Linked DNA regions of Homo sapiens: all the other regions are linked to region 1. Evidence: fine-mapped expression QTL. A gene starts in region 1. Each other region holds a variant in brackets. All regions are shown on one strand. Distances are from middle to middle.

What was found.
Region 2: its variant is fine-mapped to the expression of TMED4 in whole blood (TOPMed, PIP 0.99).
Region 3: its variant is fine-mapped to the expression of TMED4 in whole blood (TOPMed, PIP 0.98).

The regions. Positions count from the first base shown.
Region 1 is chr7:44,579,651-44,583,892 of GRCh38, reverse strand. It overlaps TMED4 (transmembrane p24 trafficking protein 4), which reads left to right and starts at 1,662. Exons shown (of 5, transcript NM_182547.4): 1 at 1,662-1,846; 2 at 2,070-2,170; 3 at 2,319-2,444; 4 at 2,654-2,800. The coding sequence starts at 1,687. RefSeq lists an enhancer at 1,179-1,288 and silencers at 1,379-1,538, 1,939-2,038.
Region 2 is chr7:44,631,040-44,635,281 of GRCh38, reverse strand. The region is part of intron 2 of OGDH (oxoglutarate dehydrogenase); the gene reads right to left. Among named protein-coding and RNA genes, the nearest start is that of OGDH, 27 kb to the right of the region's middle. RefSeq lists an enhancer at 1,102-1,151. The variant A/T (reference allele first, on the strand shown) is at 2,364.
Region 3 is chr7:44,549,568-44,553,809 of GRCh38, reverse strand. No RefSeq gene overlaps it. Among named protein-coding and RNA genes, the nearest start is that of NPC1L1, 10 kb to the right of the region's middle. The variant C/A (reference allele first, on the strand shown) is at 2,063.

The sequences.
Region 1 (4,242 bases):
AGCCAAAATTGTTATATATTAAGAGACATATATTTGTATGAAATGCAGTAAGTAAACCTTGTTTGGACCCTAAATATCTAATGTACAAAATTTTTTAAGGCAATGGGGAAAATTAAACACATACTAGGTATTAAGTGATGTTAAATAATTTTTAAAATTTTGGTGGGTGTGATAATAGTATAAAGTCCTTATCTGTTAGAGACACACACTGACGTATTTATAGGTGAAATGACATGATGTCCAGGATTTGCTTTAATATACAGCACTTCAAAAAAAAATGCAGAAAGGGATACATGAAATGAGAAAGGCAGCAAACTGTTGTTGAAGTTGGATGATGAGTACAGCCCTCCGTTATTATCCAAGGGGGATAATTCCTGGACCCCTACGGATACCAAAATCCAGGTATGCTCAAGTTCTTTATGAAAGTTCATTGTAATTATTCTATTATATAAAAGTTTCGAAATTCTGTTGATAAAATGTATTTTTAGTAGAGACGGGGGTTTCACCTTGTTGGCCCAACTGGTCTCGAATTTCTAACCTCAGATGATCCACCAGCCTTGGCCGCCCAAAGTGTTAGCATTACAGGCGTGAGCCACCGCGCCCGCCTGGCCTTGATAAAAACAGTTTTAACCTTCCGTTGCTTCGATTCCATGCCCACTAAGTAACATTCCAGTTTGTTTTTCACTTTCAAAAGGATGTGCTGTAACTAGGGGATGTAAACAAGCTCCATGACCCTACTTATTCCAAGTTTTCGTTCCACTCTCCCACCTTTTTTTTAAGACAAGGTATCACCCTCGGTCGCCCAGGCTGGAGCGCGATCACTGCTTAATGCATCCTCGACCTCCTGGGTTCAAGCGATTCTCCTGCCTCAGCCTCCCAAGTAGCTGGGACTACATGCGCACACCACCACACCGGTTAATTTTTTGTAGAGACGGGGGTTTCACCATGTTGCCCAGGCTGGTCCCGAACTCCTGGGCTCAAGGGATCCGCCCGCCTCAGCCTCCCAGAGTGCTGGGATTACAGGTGCCAGCCACCGCGCCCGGCCCCAGCTTCTTAAAAGAATGATCCGAAACTATGGCAGCACTGGGCTTTTGGTCCCCACCCAAGAAATGCCCGCTCGCAGAGGCTCGCCGCGGCAGGCTCTCCCGACGTGACAGAGTGTGGGTCTGGATTCAGCCTCGGTTCTTACGAGTCAGATAGGTGGACACGCAAAGCAAAACATCACAGGGCTTTTTGTATTTAGCACAGAAAACACTTGTGAGCCCGAGCTGAGAACCCAAAAGGCACGCTTCAGGCCATCGTAGCCACCAAGCCTGGTCAGATTCCGTCCACCGTCTCCTTGGTGCTCCGAGACCCAAATCGCTGACTGGGGCCGAGGGCGGGCGTGACTGCGCAGGCGTGCCTCCCCTGCGAGATGCCGGAGGTAAGCTGCGGGGTAAGGGGCGAGAAATTAAGGGCGAACGTCATTGCGCATGCGCCCTCTACTCTCGTTGCGGGGGTAGGCGGGCGCCGGGCTGTGTGAGGGGGCGGGGCGCGGCAGTGTTCGGTACGGATGGAGTTGCAGGAGACGGCGAGTACATATCACTGCGCAGGCGTCCTCTTCCCCTAACTCTCAGGGTCGCTAGGGTGGCGCGCAGGCGCAGAGCGATGCGCAAATGTGCGCAGGCGCTTAGGGGCTGAGGCGCGATGGCAGGTGTCGGGGCTGGGCCTCTGCGGGCGATGGGGCGGCAGGCCCTGCTGCTTCTCGCGCTGTGCGCCACAGGCGCCCAGGGGCTCTACTTCCACATCGGCGAGACCGAGAAGCGCTGTTTCATCGAGGAAATCCCCGACGAGACCATGGTCATCGGTCAGGCGGGCTGAGGGTGGGGAGGCCCTTTGTACCCAGCTCAGCCCTCGGCGGCGCTCCCTCCTCCCGAGCCCAGCCGGGTCGCTGGCTCCCCCAGTACCTAGCCTGAGGGTGCCCCGAGGACGCCAGGCCCCCTGCCTAGAGCTCCGGGCCGCACGTCGGAGGGGGCCGGGCGGAGAGGCGGCCCACTAGGGCCGGTCGTGACTATGTGTCTGCCCCGCAGGCAACTATCGTACCCAGATGTGGGATAAGCAGAAGGAGGTCTTCCTGCCCTCGACCCCTGGCCTGGGCATGCACGTGGAAGTGAAGGACCCCGACGGCAAGGTAAGGCTGGCGTTGGCCCACGCAGCCGTTCTTCAGTGGAGCTCCCGTGGGGTGTAAAGCACTGCCTGGAGGAGGCCTCAAGGGACAGGAACTTGCACTTGGAGAGCCTGCGGTATAAAGGTGGGGCCTTCACTCACATATGTTGCAGGTGGTGCTGTCCCGGCAGTACGGCTCGGAGGGCCGCTTCACGTTCACCTCCCACACGCCCGGTGACCATCAAATCTGTCTGCACTCCAATTCTACCAGGATGGCTCTCTTCGCTGGTGGCAAACTGGTAAGAGGATTTTCTCTTTGGCTTCAGCTTAGAATCTCTCACTTGTTTCCAAATTTTGATTTATCAAGATTGTGAAACTTTGTAGCACAGTCAGAATTGGGGAGACAGATGTTGCCTTCTGCTCCACAGCCAGGGACAATAGTGGGTTCCATACCCTGGAACAGACAACTGGAGGCCCCACCACTCATACATTCCATGTTTCCTTGTAGCGGGTGCATCTCGACATCCAGGTTGGGGAGCATGCCAACAACTACCCTGAGATTGCTGCAAAAGATAAGCTGACGGAGCTACAGCTCCGCGCCCGCCAGTTGCTTGATCAGGTGGAACAGATTCAGAAGGAGCAGGATTACCAAAGGGCAAGTGCATATCTCCTTGTAATTTGAGAGGGCAGTTGACCTTTATACCCACTATACCTACTCAAGTTTCTGCTTGGGAGATCAGCTCTGCAGAGAATGGAATGAGAAGTATTGGTTTAGATAGGTTGTTTGTTTGTTGTTTTTGAGACGGAGTTTCACTCTTGTTGCCCATGCTGGAGTGCAATGCCATGATCTTGGCTCACTGCAACCTCCGCCTCCCCAGGTTCAAGCGATTCTCCTGCCTCAGCCTCCTGAGTAGCTGGGATTACAGGCATGCGCCACCATGCCTGGCTAATTTTGTACTTTTAGTAGAGACGGGGGTTTCTCCACGTTGGTCAGGCTGGTCTCGAACTCCCGACATCAAGTGATCCGCCCGCCTCAGCCTCCCAAAGTGCTGGGATTACAGGTGTGAGCTACCGCGCCCTGCCTGTTTTGCTTTTTTATCAAAACATTTTATTGTGGTAAAATATAACACCAAATGTGTCATTTTAACTGTCTATATAGTTCAGTGGTATTAAGTGCCTTCATAATGTTGTGCTACCAACACCATCATCCAGCTCCAGAACTTTTTCATCTTCTCAAACTAAAAATCTGTACTTATTTTGTTTTGTTTTTGAGATGGAGTCTCGCTCTGTTGCCCAGGCTGGAGCGCAGTGGCGCCATCTCGGCTCACTGCACCCTCCGCCTCCCAGGTTCAAGCGATTCTCCTGCCTCAGCCTCCCAAGTAGCTGGGATTACAGGCAAGTGCCACCATGCGTGGCTCATTTTTGTGTTTTTAGTAGAGACTGGGTTTCACCATGTTGGCCAGGCTGGTCTTGAACTCCTGGCCTCAGGCAATCCACTGCCGCAGCCTCCCAAAGTGTTGGGATTACAGGCGTGAGCCACTGCACCCAGCAAATCTGTACTTATTATAAACAATAACTTCCCGTTTCCTTTTGTCCTGACACCCACCATTCTACTTTCTGTCTCTATGATCCTGACTACCCTATCTCATATAAGTGGAATCATTCAGTATTTGTCCTTTTGTGACTGGCTTATTTCACTGAGTATAATGTTCTCACAGTTCATCCATGTTATAGCATGTGTCAGAATTTCTTAAGGCTAATATTCCATTGTATGCATGTGCCACATTTCGCTTTCAGTAGTCATTTTTAAGCTCTATAAAATAAAATGAAGAAAGGACAGTTCACAATCTAGTAATAGCCATTGCCTACCTGTTTTTCTTGGACTCTTGTTGGAAATGGTAGGATCATGATTTCAGTCCTAACAGAGATGCTTGTGGAGGGACAGCCTGTCCCTTTCTTGGGGCAGCCTCAGTGGGGAGACCATAGCACTCCTAATGGAGTCACAGATAGTATTCCAAAAGGAGTTTGGTCCTGGAGTTGAGTAATTACACGCAGGGAGGGACCTCACAACAGCCAGACTGTTTCTCCTGCTCACTT
Region 2 (4,242 bases), 51 kb before region 1:
AGGGCACCATGTAACCAAGGAACACCGGCGTATGGCTCTTCTTTCAGCTCATTCTAATCCAGCCAAGCTGATAAAAAGTCAGCTGCTGGGCACCATGTGACCAGCCAGCCTGGAGTTCAGCCGGCGCTGCTGTAAGGGGCAGGCCTCCCATCCCGGCCTCAGTGTAGACCAACAACTCATTCTTTTCCTGCACACAAGACAGGGCAGGCCTGCATGACCTCTACCACTCCTTCCAATGCTGCCCAGGAAATGGTCCTAAACGTGTGGGCCAGAGCTTTTCCTGAAAATATCCTAAGAACAAGATTTAAAACCCATATGTGTGACTACCCTGTATGTCCAAACAGGGTACTCCCTATTGGGGAGACTTGTGGATGGAATGCCCACCTCCAGAGCCTTCAGCAAATGATTCATGCTGTTGGGCTAAGCACAAGTCTCCAAAGAAAATGTGCAGATGGTAGAGCTGGACTCTGGACCCTCCATCAATGCAGGCCTTGCTCAGACCTTGCCCAGGCCAGAGTACCACTTACCACCATTCTGCCTATGAAGCAAAAACAAGGTAGGGCACTGTGATCCAGGCCTGGTGACCTGCCACTACAAGCTGTTTATACTGAGGCCAGTTAAGAATGGGCTTCTATTTAGGTATTCTTCAATTAAGGAAACCACATGCTCCATTATAGCAATGCTTAGTCATTATAGGTGACAGAATATTTCTAAACAATCTCTATTATCTTCTGTCTGTACAGGTGTGTAAATAAAACATCAATAAACTTCCAAGATTAGCAAAGAACAGCTGCTTCAGCTCTGCCCTATGGAATCTACTGATATCAGAATGATATTTGCTGGGATTCTGCACTAGACTAAAGGTGGCTGCTCTATCAGGTCATTATGAAAAGAGCTGTGGAGGGCTGTCCAGTGGCCATGCCTTTTCCTCTCCCCAAACGGATGTCCCTAAGGGTTGTCTGTGACTTGCTCTAACCAAGGTAATGGCGTGGGGAGTAGCAGTGTACGGTCTGGACCTAGGCCTCAAAGGCCCCACAGCCTTTCTTTTCCCTGTCTGGAGCTACTCTGGGACTTTGTGCAGGAATCGCTCCGGCCTACTGGAGGATGGCAGGGCCCAGTGAACAGCCAGCACAAACTGCCAGACACATCAGAGGCCTTCATGGCTTCTAGCCTGGTGTGAGCCTCAGCTCCAAGGGAGCTGGCAGTGGGAGGAGTGGGGAAACCTAGCCAACCCACAGAGTCATGAGACATGCTACACTGGTGCCAAGTTTTGAGGTGGTTTGTTATACAAACATTCATGGAAACCAGACTTTTTACTGCATGAAAAGATGACATCCAAGATACTGTGACCCCTTTCTCACGCAGTCTTTCTGACACACCTCAGGAAATGAGAACGCTTCAAACTACCCAGATCTGCACACAATGGCACATTTTATCAGCTCTCAGAATTGCAACTCTCAAGGAGGTGAGGAAGACCCACAGTCTGGGGTCACCTGTGGTCGTCTGGTTGAGGCCTCATCTGTCCTCAATAATTATGCAACCCTATTTGGGGGAACCCCAGCCCAGCTACACAAAGCATCTGCTCCAGGGTTTCAGAGGGAATACCACGTGACTGACCACTCAAAGAGAGGGTTCTAAAGGCTATCTCCTCACCTCACGATCCAATCATGGACGCGAAGAGATATGAGAATCCCAAAGTCCTCAAACCTCCCTCCAAGGGAGTCTTGGATGGGGAGGGGAGCCAGAGAACAGTAACCTAGAGACTAAACAGACTATTTTTTAATAACATGATGACTTCATCTAAAAAACCGGCACTAACCTTTTAGTAATTTCTCACCGCCACCCAGCTTCAGACTGTGCGGGGAAGCTGAGCCTGCCTCTGACTTACAAAGCATGGCTCTTTCATTTCCTCAAAGGCAAGCACCTGTGGCCACCTGTGCTACAGAATGGAACTCACTGGAACAATTTGCTCCTTTTCACTCTTGGAGTCTACTTTCCCATTGAGGGTTTTTTTTTTTTTTTTTTTTTTGACACAGAGTCTCGCTCTGTTGCCCAGGCTAGAGTGCAGTGGCTCAATCTTGGCTCACTAAAAGCTCCGCCTCCCAGGTTCACGCCATTCTCCTGCCTCAGCTTCCCAAGTAGCTGGGACTACAGGGGTGCGCCACCATGCCCGGCTAATTTTTTGTATTTTTAGTACAGACAGGGTTTCACCATGTTAGCCAGGATGGTCTCGATCTCCTGACCTCGTGATCTGCCCACCTCAGCCTCCCAAAGTGCTGGGATTACAGGCGTGAGCCACTGTGCCTGGCCCCATTAAGGTATTTTTGATCTCTCTCCCCTTTCAATTTCTGACATTAAACAAA[A/T]TTTTTTTTTTCTTAAAGTACAGTACAAAAGGATAATCATTAAAAACATCCACCAGGCGGATCATGAGGTCAGGAGATTGAGACCATCCTGGCTAACATGGCGAAACCCCGTCTCTACTAAAAATACAAAAAATTAGCCAGGCGTGGTGGCACGCGCCTATGGTCCCAGCTACTTGGGAGCCTGAGGCAGGTGAATCACTTGAACCCGGGGAGGCGGAGGTTGCAGTGAGCCGAGATCGTGCCATTGCACTCTAGCCTGTGTGACAGAGCGAAAGTCCATCTCAAAACAACAATAACAACAACAACAAAAAACATCCACCAGGCTCAGTGGCTCACGCCTGTAATCCCACCACTTTAGGAGGCAAGGCAGGAGGATGGCTTGAAGCCAGGAGTTTGAGACCAGCCTGGGCAAAAAAACAAGACCCTGTCTCTATAAAAAATATAAAATATTAGTCAGGCATGGTGGTGTGCACCTGTACTCCCAGCTACTCAGGAAGCTGAGGCGTGGGGGAGTGGCGGGGGAGTGGATTACTTGAGCCCAGAAGTTTGAGGCTACTATCATGGTGCCACTGCACTCCAGTATGGGTAATGGAGACCCTGTCTCAAAAAGAAGAGCTCCAAAAGATGCAGTGATCCTCATTTAGAGTAAGCCTCTCTCCTCCCACCAGCCTCAGTGACCTCGTATGCCTGCTGTCCTGGCCTCAGTCCCTCCTGCTCTTGGGGATCCCAACTCCTCCTGCACCACATCCTCAAACTTGCTCTCCTTCTACCTGCTGAGGGGTCCATGCTCCCACAGCACATAACAAAATCAACAAACACCTCTTGGTTTGATCTTGGAACCTCTCCATTTACTTCATAATCCAAATTTTTGGTTTTTTCTTGCTGCGTCTGGCTCCTGGCCCTGAAGCCTGCATCCATCATCCTGCTGAGTGACCGTGAGCCCCTGTTGGGCTCCTTCACAGCACAGCATAATGCACTTCCTTTCAGAAGCTCAGTGGGTTCTATTAGAATTCCAAATGTTTTTATTTATTTATTTTTCTTTTTAAGGGCCGGGAGAGAGAGGAGAGAGAAAGGAAAGAGGGAAGGGGGTGGAGAGGGGGAGAGAGAGAGAGAAAAGAGAGCTAGAATTTTAACTGTTGTTTAAACTTATTTAATCATCCTGCTAGGATAACAGGGCAAGACTGCTTTTCCTCTTGCAGCCGCCACTCAGCACAAGCTTCGAACACAGCTGTCATGAGCTGCAAACTACCACACAAGTGAGGGTGTTGCTTCATGTTTCCTGTTGTTTCAAAGAGGTTATAATTTTATCACCCTAAATAAACCATAAATGCAAACTGCTTAAGAGTGAAATACTGTGCTAAAGTTGGAGAAGGCGCACTCAGTCAGTTTAGCTGATTTAACACAAAAAGCCACAAGTGCTGAGATTGCTCTTAACATGTGAAGTTAAAGATTATCAAGTGGCGGTGGGGGAGGGTGGTAGGAGAGTGAGGGTTGAAAAATTGCCTATTGGGTACAATGTTCATTATCTGGGTGATGGGTACACTAGAAACCCAATTCCCACCATTACTTAACGTACCCATGTTACAAACCCACACATGTACCTCCTGAATCTTCAAAAACAAAAAATCATCAAGGGGTAACTTCAAAGCTCATCGCTGAAACCCCATTTACGTAGACCATGCAGTTTATGTATACAGTCAGCCCTCCGTATCTGTGGGTTCTGCATCCATGGATTCAACCAAACGTGGATTGAAAATAGTTGGTAAAAAACTGCCTGTACTGAACATGTACACTTTTTTTTCCTGTTATTATTCTCTAAACCAGGGATCCCCAACCCCCGGGCCACAGACCAGTACTGGTCAGTGGCCTGTTTGGAACT
Region 3 (4,242 bases), 30 kb after region 1:
ATGTCTAGCAATTTGTCCATTTCTTCTAGATTATCGTTTGTTATACAGTCATTTATAGTATTATATTGTATTTTTTATTTCTGTAAAATTGTAAAGTTCCCACTTTCATTTGTGATTTTGGTAATATGAGTCTTCTCTTTTTCTTAGTCACCTTACCTAAAGGTTTGTCAATTTTGTTGATTTTTTTCTTTTAAAATTTATTTTTCTGTATTATTTTATTTGTATTATAGATTGCTCCTTCAGAATATTTTTTTCAAGAAATCAACTTTTTGTTTCATAGCTGTTCTCTATAGTTTTCTATTCCCTATTTCACTTATCTCAGTTGTAGTCTTTATTATTTTTAAAAATTCTAGCTTTGAGTTTAGTTTTTCTTTTTCTAGCTCCTTAAGGTGTGCAGTTAGAAAATTTCAAATCTTTCTTCTTCTCTTCTCCTCCCCCTCCTCCTTCTTCCTCCTCGCCCTTCCTCCTCCTCCCCCTCCTCCTGTTGGGGTGATCAGACCCAACACCAGGTCGTGGGGGTGACAAAGTCCGGTGGAGTCAAAGGATTGAGACAAAGACAGTTTGAGAGATAAAGGTGGGACACCAAGGGGCCATCGTGATCATGGAGGCTGCGAAAGCCCTGCGCTCTGGGAGTCCACAGTATTTATTGGTAATCCAACAAAGAAACAGGTGGTGAGGCATGTTCTCACTCATAGGTGGGAATTGAACAATGAGAACACTTGGACACAGGAAGGGGAACATCACACACCGGGGCCCGTTGTGGCGTGAGGGGAGGGATAGCATTAGGAGATATACTTAATGTAAATGACGACTTAATGGGTGCAGCACACCAACATGGCACATGTATACATATGTAACAAACCTGCACGTTGTGCACATGTACCCTAGAACTTAAAGTATTAAAAAAAAAAAAAAGAAACAGGTGGTGAGAATGTGGAGGTCAAAAGGGCAGGCGCATGATCTACAGCTGTGACAGTTTAGCATTTATATGGAACATGTTCTGCTACTTGAGATAATGGGAATAGGAGCCTAGGAGGGCTAGAAGCAAGGAGCCAGCAAGTCTAGACACATTCCAGAGGACATTATGCAAGTCCTGCCTCAGTTTCCCTCCCAACACTCAGCTTTTTCCCAACATCCTCCTCCTCCTTCTTCTTTTTTTCTTTCTCTTCCTCTTCCTTTCTTTCCTCCTTCTCTCTTTTTTGTAGAGATGGGGTTTTGCTATGTTAATCCAGGTTGGTCTTGAACTCCTGGCCTAATATGATTCTCCTGCCATGGACTCCCAAAGTGTTGAGATTACAGGCATGAGCCACCACACCTGGCCCTTTCTTTAAAAAAATTTTTTTTTTTTAATTTTTAAAAATTTTTTTGAGACAAGGTCTTGCTCTGCTGCCCAAGCTGGAGTACAGTGCTGTAATCTCAGCTCACCGTAGCCTCGACCTCTTGGGCTCAAGTGATTCTCATCCCTCAGCCTTCCAAGTTACTGGGACTACAGGCACGTGCCACCATGCCTGGCGAATTTTTCCTATCTTTCTTGTAGAGACAGGGTTTAGCCATGTTGCCCGAGCTGGTCTCCCTCAATCCTGCCCCCTTGGCCTCCCAAAGCACTGGGACTACAGGCATGATCCACCGCGCCAGGGTGCTTTCTTCTTTTTTGATTGTGTTTATGGCTAAAAATTTTCCTCTTAGCACAGCTTTGCTGCATCCCATAAGTTTTGGTATGTTGTGTTTTCATTTTCATTTGTCTCAAGGTATTTTTATATTTCCTTTGTGATTTTTGCTTTGATCCATTGGTTGTTAAGCATGTGTTGTTTAATTTCCAAATATCATGAATTTTCAGGGTTTTTTTCCTGTAATTTATTTACTTTTTTTTTTTTTGAGCCAGGATGGAGTGCAGTGGTGTGATCATGGCTCACTGAAGCACTGATCTCCTGGGTTCAAGTAGTTCTCTCGCCTCAGCCTTCTGAGTAGCTGGTACCATAGGTGTGTGCCACCATGCCTGGCTAATTTTTGTTTTGAAACAGGGTCTCACTCTGTGGCCCAGGCTGGAGTGCAGTGGTGCGAT[C/A]ATGGCTCACTGCAGCCTTGATCTCCTAGGTTCAGGTGATCCTCCCACCTCAGCCTCCTGGGAAGCTGGGACTACAGGTGCACACCACTACACCAGCTAATTTTTTGTATTTTTAGTAGGGATGGGATGTCACCATGTTGCCCAGGAAGTTCTGAACTCTTGGGCTCAAGCAGTTCATTTCCCTCAGCCTCCCAAAGTATTGGGATTACAGGTGTGAGCCACCACACCCAACTTATTTTTATTTTTAGAGATGGGGTTTCTCTATGTTTCCCAGGCTGATCTTGAACCCCTGGGCCCAAGAGATCCTCCCAACTTCTCCTCCCAAAGTGCTGTGATTACAGGTGTGAGTCACCGTGCTCAGCCCCTTCTATTATCGAGTTCTAGTTTCATTCCATTGTGACTGGAAAATATACTTTCTATGATTTTAATTATTTAAAATATAACAAGGCTTGTTTTGTCGCCTAACGTACTGTCTGTCCTGAGGAATATTCCATATGCACTTGAAAGAAATGTGTATCCTGCTGTTATGGAGTGGAATGTTGTATATATACAAGTGTCCAAGTGTTTTATAAATGTTCAAGACTTCTATTTCCTTACTGGTCTTGTGGCTAGTTGTTCCATCAATTATTGAAAATGGAGTATTGAAGTCTCCAACTACTTATTGTTGCATTGTCTATTTCTCCTTTCAATGATGTAATGTTTGCTTTACATATTTTAAGGTCACATTGTTTGGTGCATATATATTATTACTTATTCTTGATGAATTGACCCTTTTAGTAATGTATAATGTCATTTTTGTCTTTTGTAACAATTCTTTATTTAAATTCTATTTTGTGGTCAGGTGCAATGGCTCATGCCTGTAATCCCAGCACTTTGGGAAGCTGAGGTGGGCAGATCACTTGAGGTCAGGAGTTCAAGACCAGTCTGTCCAACATGGCAAAACCCCGTCTCTACTAAAAATACAAAAAATTAGCTGGGTGTGGTGGGACACGCCTGTAATCCCAGCTGCTTGGGAGGCTGAGGCACAAGAATAGCTTGAACCCGGGAGACAGAGGTTGCAGTGAGCCAAGATTGTGGCACTGCACTCCAGCCTGGACAACAGTGAGACCCTGTCTCCAAAAATAAATAAAATAAAAATTCTATTTTGTCAGATATTAGTGTAGCAACTCCAGCTCTCTTTTGGTGACTATTTGCGTGGAATATCTTTTTCTATTCTTTTATTTTCAAACTATTTGTGTCCTCAGATCTAAAGTGAGTGTCTTAGACATCATATAGTTGGATCCTATCTCTAAAACAATGTATTCTGCATTCTCCAACTTTGACTACAGAGTTGAATCCATTTAAATTTGAAGTAATTACTGATAAGGATTTATGCCATTTTACCTTTTCTTTTCTGTATGTCTCATAGATTTTTGTCTTTCATTTTCTTCATTATTGACTTCTGTATTTATTTATTTATTTGCTTTTTGTTTTATTTTATTAATTTTTTGTAGAGACAGAATCTCACTATGTTGCCCAGGCTGGTCTTGAACTCCTGGCCTCAAATGATCCTCCTGCCTCAGCCTCCCAAAGTGCTGGGATTATAGACATGAGTCACCTTGCTTGGCTGGGTTTTAAAAATTGTTTTTGTAGTGACACATTTTGATTCTCTTTTCATTTCCTTTTGCATATATTCTATGTATTATTCTTCGTTGTTACCCTGGGGATTACAAATAAAATCCTAGAGTTATAAAAATCTAATTTGAATTGATACCAACTTAACAGCATACAAAACTCTACTCCTATACAGCTTTGTCCCTGCTTTAGGTTATTGGTGTCAAAAATTCCATCTTTACACATTGTTTGCTCAAAAATATAGAATTATGTTTTTTTGGCTGGGTGTGGTGGTTCACACATGCAATCTCAGTGCTTTGGAAGGTTGAGGTGGGAGGATTGCTCGAGGCCAGGAGTTTGAGACCAGCCTGGGCAACATAACAAGATCCCAGCTTTACAAAAAAGGGAAAAAGAAAGAGTGACTTGGCAGGCATGGTGGCTTAGACCTGTAATGCCAGTACTTTGAAAGTCTGAGGTGGGAGAATTGCTTGCCTCCAGGAGTTTGGGACCAGCCTGGGCAACACAGTGAGACCCCACCTCTACAAAAAATACAAGATTTTGCCAAGCGTGGTGGCATGTGCCTGTAA